2 linked regions of the Homo sapiens genome follow. The protein of the gene in region 1 purifies or fractionates together with the protein of each later gene. This does not show direct contact. Each region holds a gene or a part of one and is shown on either strand. Other genes may lie near its edges. The genes, in order: PGC and CCNT1.

Region 1 (4,326 bases):
CCCAGCTGACTTCTAGTCCTCCCTCCCCTCCCCCATTATAAGGCTTGGGGAAGCTCCAGGGCTCTGGCTGGGCAGTGGGTAGCAGTGGCTAGAGTGGAAAATCCCCCACCAGCTGGATGATATCAGTGTTTACAGATCTGGTCCTGGCCTTCTGCCTGGGGCCTGAGGACCTGACAAATCTGCCTGGAGCCCTGAGTGTGGGGTACGAGGTCGCAGAGAGGCTATTGGCACGGGGATTTTTTTCCCACTCACTCCAAAATGGAGAGCTGTCCTGGGCCAGGTGAGCAGGCACTGGGCCAGCTCCAGGTCACCTCAGGCAATGGGAAGCTGGTAGCTGGGAAGTGGGGTGGGAGTTGGGGGAGGTGGGGGAGGGGGTGCCGAGATGAGGGATAGAGGAACTAACAAATCAGACTTGGGGGCTGCACAAGGGCTTGGGAGTGGGTCATGGGAGACATAGGCACTTTAGGAGAACTGAAGACAGAAGCAGGGACGCAGCGGGGCAGAAGAGAGAACGAGGAACAGCAGCAGGGCGCAGGCCTGTCCCTCTTCATATGCCCCTGCTCCAGGCCTCTGATCTAGGTCGGTACAAGAGGCACAACCAGAAGCTGGTGTGGCTTACTCTGTGAGTGTGTCCTGAGCATTTGCTGAATTATGACAAGCATTTCTCCAAATGTCCTGTTTGACCTTGAAAGCCTCTGAAGCTGCTCAAATAGCTGTGACTTCAGCCATTGTCATCCCAGCCCCACCACCAGCACCAGAACTCCCGACACTGCCATCAGCACCACCCTCACCATCACCATCATTGTAACCAGCATCCTAGCTACTAGCTACTGACCTCTTGACCCCCTGACACCCCTATCTCCTCCCCTGAGGGTTTGAGGGTGCTAGGAGTTAGGAGTGGAGTCAAAGCTTCAAGTACATAACCTAGAGACAAGCAGTTCTCAATGATTTTGCCCATCCAGAAGACACTTAGCAGTGCCTGGAGATATATTTGGTTGGCACAATGGGTGGACTGCTCCTGGCATCGAGTCGGTAGATGCCAGGAATGCTGTTAAACATTCTATAGTACACAGGATGGGGCCCACAACAAAGAACTATTTGTTCCAAAATGTCGACAGCACTGAGGTTGCGAAACCCTGGCTATAGATCCTATCTATCCCAGCACTCTGCCTCTACCTTTTTCTGGCCCTCGTCCCTAAATGCACACATTATGCCTCTGGTTTGGGAACAAGACGTAATCTTCACCACTCCATCTTACGGCAACTTTCTCTCTTATCGCTTGCACCTCCTGGCCTCCGATGCTTGAACCAAAAAGTCAATAAGATGAAAGTCTGTTGCGGCCACCCTCAAGAAGGAAAAATACACAGAAACGATACACGAAGCACAGGGTACACCCTGGGTTGAGGTCATGGCTGCCCAGGGCAGGGAGGCAGCGATTAGACTAATCTTGGGCGTATAAAAGAGGAAAGAGTGCCCAGGTCTTCACTCCACTGCGACTGCAGAACTCAGAGCTGCTCTTCCTCTGTGGCCAGTTGGGGACCAGCATCATGAAGTGGATGGTGGTGGTCTTGGTCTGCCTCCAGCTCTTGGAGGCAGCAGTGGTCAAGTGAGTCTGGGATCTGGCTGCTGGTGCAGGGAGCCTGGATGGGAGCCTAAAGCCCTGCAAAGGGCAACTGGGCCAGGGGACACCCTGCCTGTCTCTACTCTGGGACTTCTGCTAGGGGAAGGGAAGTCTCCCTTTGCTGATGTTAGACAGGACACATGGGTGGAAGGAGACACAGCCCCTGCCTTCAGGAAACTTCCTATCAAAGGGAAAAGCACGATCCCTTCCCCCATCTGATGAGGAAAGATGGACCTGAAACAGAGGTGGTAAGGGTGACTACTGCCCAAGCAGCCCTTGAATGGCAGGTGTGGATTCTTCTCACAGAAGGGAGCAATCCTTTTTGGATAAGGGATATCTTATCCACTATCCTCTCTAAAAGTTGCTTTAAGGCTGAAAATTTACTGGCAGATGCCAAAATCATCTAAGCAGAAACACCAGTAAATGTAAATCTCTACACCTGAGGGGTCAGGAGAAAACTCTGGAGTAGATGGCATGGCTCACAGGCCATCAGGAAGGCGCCCAGCCTGCCATCCTGCCTGTTATTTCTCTACCCAAGAGTACTTCCTGAGGCCAAGAGCTGGCTCCTCTCAGAAACTCCTATCAATATGCATATTTGGTAGAGGTGGTTAATTAGTCTTCATAGCTCAGGGTGAAGGGGTTTAGCAGAGAATTTCTGGAGAATGCAGAGTCCCCAGGGAATGGGGATTAAGCAGAATTCTGGAGCCTAGAGCAAGGCCAGAGTGGACCCCTAGAGACTCCCAAGCAATGGCAGCAAGCAAGTCTGGGAAGGAGAGTGCCGAGGGTGTGACTGAGCCCATAGGATGGGACAGAAACGGTGATTTATAAGTTCCAACTCCAGAGCTGATCTGTGCTCCAGACCACCCAGGCCAACTTCCCGTGGTCCTGGTGTCCTGAGAGGAGCAGTGATGGGGCCTAGGCCATGCGATTAGCAGCTGGGACAGAACTAGGACTCTGTGTCCTGAGTCCCAGCTAGTGCTGTTGCCGTTGCTCCATGCTCTGTCACATCCAGCTGGTGCCAGGTGCCTGAGGGCTGCCGTAGAAAGGAACTCTGGGGTGAACTTTGCCATCTCTGAAATCTTCTTTGTTTTTTTTTTTGAAACAGAACTTCGCTCTTGTTGCCCAGGCTGCAGTGCAATGGCGCGATCTCGGCTCACTGAAACCTCTGCCTCCCAGGTTCAAGCGATTCTCCCACCTCAGCCTCCCGAGTAGCTAGGATTACAGGCATGCGCCACCATGCCCGGCTAATTTTGTAATTTTAGTAGAGATGGGTTTTCACCATCTTGGCCAGTCTGGTCTCGAACTCCTGACCTCAAGTGATCCACCCGCCTCGGCCTCCCAAAGTGCTGGGATTACAGGCGTGAGCTACCGTGCCTGGCCTGAAATCTTCTGTTAAAAATGTGCATTTCCTGGGCTGGGCGCAGTGGCTCACGCCTGTAATCCTAGCACTTTAGGAGGCCAAGGCGGGCGGATCATTTGAGGTCGGGAGTTTGAGACCAGCCTGACCAACATAGAGAAACCCTATCTCTACTAAAAATACAAAATTAGCTGGGCATGGTGGCCCTTGCCTGTAATCCCAGCTACTCAGGAGGCTGAGGCAGAAGAATAGCTTGAACTCGGGAGGTGGAAGTTGAGGTGAGCCGAGATCAAGCCATTGCACTCCAGCCTGGGCAACAAGAGCGAAACTCTGTCTCAAAAAAAAAAAAAAAAACTACATATCCTGGGCCAGGTGCGGTGGCTCACACCTGTAATGCCAGCACTTTGGGAGGCCTAGGCAGGCGAGTCACGAGGTCAGGAGATCAAGACCAGCCTGGCCAACATAGTGAAACCCTGTCTCTGCTAAAGATACAAAAAATTAGCCAGGCATGGTGACAGGCGCCTGTAATTCCAGCTACTCGGGAGGCTGAGGCAGGAGAATTTTCTGAACCCAGGAGGTAGAGGTTGCAGTGAGCGGAGATTGTGCCATTGCACTCTAGCCTGGGTGACAAAAGTGAAACTGCGTCTCAAAAAAAAAAAAGTACATATCCTGAAAAGGGTAAAGCCTAAAGTCCCTCTTCCTTTCCTGGGGAGGAATCTATGGGATATTTGACAGCAAAGGGCCAGGGAGATAGGAGGACCCTTGAGATGAGGTGAGGAGTGCATGCATGGTGAAATGAATGGTTTTCTGAATCTTAGAGCAAGTGCTGAGAAGAGCTTTGTAAGAAAGAGGGGAAGAGGCAAAGGGAGGAAGAAACACGCGCGCGCGCACACACACACACACACACAGAGAGACAGACAGACAGAGACAGAGAGCAAAAGGCTGAGAGAGAGAAAAAGACACACACAGACAAGGGGGAACAAACAGAGTGGCAGGGAGGTTGAAGCATGCAGTTAAGAGAAGGAGAGAGAGAAAGAGAGGAGTGGGAAGAGAGGAAGGAGGGAGGGCCTTGCCTCATATGCAACCTTTCTGTAGAGTGCCCCTGAAGAAATTTAAGTCTATCCGTGAGACCATGAAGGAGAAGGGCTTGCTGGGGGAGTTCCTGAGGACCCACAAGTATGATCCTGCTTGGAAGTACCGCTTTGGTGACCTCAGCGTGACCTACGAGCCCATGGCCTACATGGATGTGAGTCCTGACCCTTTCTGGCGGTAGCCTTCTCTCTGGTGTGGGCTGGAGGGAAGGGGCAGGTCCCTTCACTCCTCTGCCCATGGAGGAGCCTGGGGCCCC
Region 2 (3,813 bases), on another chromosome or scaffold:
CTTCCTCTCTTCTGATATATTAAACACCGAAAGGATCCACAATTGTCTGATACAAGAAACCCTCCATTTTTCAGCTCTGGCAAGAAGAGGGAAGATATCAACTCCAATCAACCTAATTAGATGGTGGAGAGGCCAAGAATTCAGAATGTGTCCTTAATCCTTCACAGCTTCAACACCTCTCTAATACCAGTAAAAACTGTAAGAAAATAGTTAAATGCATGAGACAGCAGATATATAGCCAAGGCCTTCTACCACCCTCCTAACTATGTCTCAATATCAATTTATTCCCTAGTCCAAGGATGACATATTTCATAAGTAATTTTCTTAGTCCAAAAAAAAAAAAGAAAAATTATGTGTTTTTTTAAAGAAGTTTTTTTCTCCTCTTCTTTTTCTTTTTTTACTTAGGAAGGGGTGGAAGTGGTGGAGGAGGTTCTGATGGCAGAGGTGGTGGCCGGGGTTTGTCTGTATTGCCAGATCTCGAGGAGATTCCACCAGACCGAGGATTCAGATAGTCACTATAAGGACGAACAAATTCAAATGCAGTGGGCTGAGTGGGCTGAACACCCTGGGCACTGAGCAGGGAGTGAAGCATATTCACAGTGTCTTGATAGTCTATTGTCTGGGTCGTGTTGTGACCATTGGCCCCAGTGGGCCCTTTATCCAGTTTCGAATGAGGGACACGAGTTTTACAGCTGGGCTGTGAAAAGGAAAGGCCACTTGTGTCTGAGCTATGCCCAGGCATCTGACCCATTGTAGGAAGTGAAGGGAAGGAGAAATTTAGGGAAGAGGATTTAGTACTCTTGGCAATCTTGGCTGGATGATCAAACACAGCCCCTCCAGTCTCTTCAGAGGGTCCCCTTTTACGAGTAGAACTGGAAGAGGAAAAAGAACTAGACAAGCTATAGGTTTTATGTGCTAAGTTGCTTGTCTGGCTACTATGTTTTGGATCACCAGGACGTTTGTTCCCAGTACCAACTGGAAGTTGGGAATGAGAGTGCTTGTGTGAGTGGTGATTATGATGATGATGATGATTAGATGGGTGAGTCTTGTGCTTTTCTTTGTGCTCTCGGCTCTTTGTAACACTGTCCTCTACAGAATTGTGCTTATCAGCTGCAGCATGGACTTTTATGCGCATTTTTATCTCCTCTGGTTTTGAAGACGCAGCTTTATCTCCACCTGCCACTGGGATTCTCATTTTGAGAGCTGTTTTGTCAGCCTTTTCCAGAAAAGGCCGCTCGGGGTTTTCTGAACCCTCTATGGGCATTTTTAGAATGACTGAAGAATGGCTATCATGATGAGAAAGGAGATTCTGGGCAGCATATGCATATTGTGACTTCACATTGGCTTCCATGTTCTCCAGTTGCCTCTTCTGGGCAGCCAATTCTTCTGCATGCTTCGCGCGGTATTCTTTCAGTGACACTTTAGCTGATGGCACACTCTTACTATTCTGCTTCTGGGAAATAAATGCATTTGAACCATCCTGTGGTAAGGAATGATCAACTCCTGTAAGTGCTAAATTCTCACTAGTCCGATGACCCTGAGTAGGTTCTAGTTTGAAAGAAGGTTGGGAGGACAGCCAACGCTTGCCCGGCAACATCTCCACACTGGTTAAGTTGCTGGATGACTCTTCGGAGACTGGCAGGGAAGGCACTGCACTTGTGGTAGAAGTTGACATGCTCATTAAACCTGCAATGGTTGTGTCTGAAGAGCTCTGGGAAATCATATTGAGGATTGTCTGCTCTGAAGTCTTTTCATCTGTTCCTCGGTCATCTGCTTTTGTTTTCTTGGCAGCCTCGCATGCCTGCAATGAAGCAAATAGCATCTCTTTACTTAGGTAATTTACTAAATAAAAAAACACTGAGATGAGTAGATTGTACTTGCAGCAACACTGGAAGTTCTGGATAGGCCACAGGCAGGAGGCTATCCTAACATGTAATCCAATAAATATTACCATCAAGAGAAGATTTTAAAACCTTCAATTAAGAGTCACAGCAATCTATCCAAACGTTACAAAGCAATAATAACAACAAAGAATCTATGCTTATCTAAAATTCATACATGAACATCCATGCCTTCGCTTATGATTATAGTTAGTCCATAACTGAGTTCTAGAAATTTTGGTGAGGTTTTATGCTAAAGTAAAAGATGTGCTCTCAAGCCTACTTCTTTTTTGTTGTTACTGTTGTTTTTTGTTTGTTTGTTTGTTTGAGACAGAGTCTCACTTTGTCATCCAGGCTGGAGTGCAGTGGCACAATCTCGGCTCACTGCAACCTAACGTCCCGAGTTCAAGCGATTCTCCTGTCTCAGCCTCCCAAGTAGCTGGAACTACAGGTGTGCATCACCATGCCTGGCTAATTTTTGTATTTTTAGTAGAGACGAGGTTTCACCATGTTGGCCAGGCTGGTCTCGAACTCCTGACCTCAGTTGATCCGCCTGCCTTGGCCTCCCAAAGTGCTGGGACTACAGGCATGAGCCACCATGCCCGGCCTCTCAAGCCTACTTCTAATCTCAGGCTTCTAAGAGGCAAACTCACTCTCTGCCACTCACTCAACTCAGGAGAATGAAATTAACTTTTTCTGTCTGGATTTAGGAGAAAACAATGGAAACATTTTAAAACAAGTTTTATATCTGACAGAAAAAAAAGGAATGATTCCATTATTCCTGAATAAGGCTTTGACAAGTATTTGAAATACAACTTCAGACTACAGCCTATATAAAAACAAAATTCTAAAATCCATTTTAAAAGTAGGTAATGTCAAACACAAAACTGTGATACCGGCTCTAACCTTGTAATTCTCTATCTTGCCTCTACCAGAAGCCAATACTCTAACTCCGAGAAGCCATGTTTTTTCCCTACCAGTTTCCACACAGAAAATACTGAACCAGTGTTACTGCTCAAATGATCATATCACAGGAGTTACACAATGAAAAGCAAATCCTGCTATCCCATAGAGACACTGACTTTTACAACAGTATCCAAGGTATGAAGTAGAAGTCATGATTACTGTGTAACTATAAAAAGGGCAATTCCAAACCTAGGGTACATATTCAATACTGGTATATTCACTGGTGCAGTCAAAAGAAATTGATTTTGTTCCACAAGCTGACAGTAATGATTCTTACCCTCCAATTCCAAATGCGTTTGAGCCTGTTGGGAGTTTTCTCCAAAATCTGTAGAAACTCATGTGTCAGTTCTACAAGTAAAACAGAACATTCAAGAAAGACTGAGAGAAACAGAAGTAATGAAACAAGAATAACCTGAACTACTAACTAACTATTTTCATCTGAATCAAGTCACCTTTGGCCAGCTATGTGACAGATCAACAGCAAGTGCTTTTCAAGGTCCCTTACTCTAAAACTTACCATCTAAAAGTTCCAAGGTCACAGTGGCGTCAACATACTCCCACCAGTGCTTCCCGTCAGTTGAGACTGGGATCTCCCAATTGGACCACTTGCAAGCCAGGTGAATGCAGACACAGGCCACCACAGGAGGTGTGTACTGCAGGCTAAATGTGGTCAAATGCAGGCTGACATCAGAGGGAAGAAAACAGAGAGTGTCATGAGCTCTCAATTCTCAGCCCAAAGCTAAAACTCTCCATTATTTAAAAAAAAAAAAAAAAAAAAAAAAAAAGGCTTAAAAATAGACAGGAGAGTAAGAAGGGTAAGAAATATGCAATGCTCTGATCTAGCACTCAATATAATTTCCTATTAACCCACCTGTTCAGGTAACAACATTTTAAAAACTCTTGAATTACACATCACTTAATCTACACATTGACCAGAGCCAAAAAAAAAAAAAAGGAAAAAAGGAAA

What was found.
Region 2: the proteins of PGC (region 1) and CCNT1 purify together in Homo sapiens (affinity purification with western blotting, with the first as the bait; one study listed by BioGRID). This does not show direct contact.

The regions. Positions count from the first base shown.
Region 1 is NC_000006.12:41,744,556-41,748,881, reverse strand, and holds the start of PGC (gastricsin isoform 1 preproprotein), read left to right. Parts: upstream 1-1,484; 5' UTR 1,485-1,547; coding exon 1,548-1,606; intron 1,607-4,073; coding exon 4,074-4,224; intron 4,225-4,326. UniProt on the Homo sapiens protein: Hydrolyzes a variety of proteins.
Region 2 is NC_000012.12:48,692,636-48,696,448, forward strand, and holds part of CCNT1 (cyclin-T1), read right to left. Parts: intron 3,604-3,813; exon of another isoform or gene 3,528-3,603; coding exon 3,364-3,527; intron 3,195-3,363; coding exon 3,124-3,194; intron 1,802-3,123; coding exon 398-1,801; 3' UTR 1-397. UniProt on the Homo sapiens protein: Regulatory subunit of the cyclin-dependent kinase pair (CDK9/cyclin-T1) complex, also called positive transcription elongation factor B (P-TEFb), which facilitates the transition from abortive to productive elongation by phosphorylating the CTD (C-terminal domain) of the large subunit of RNA polymerase II (RNA Pol II).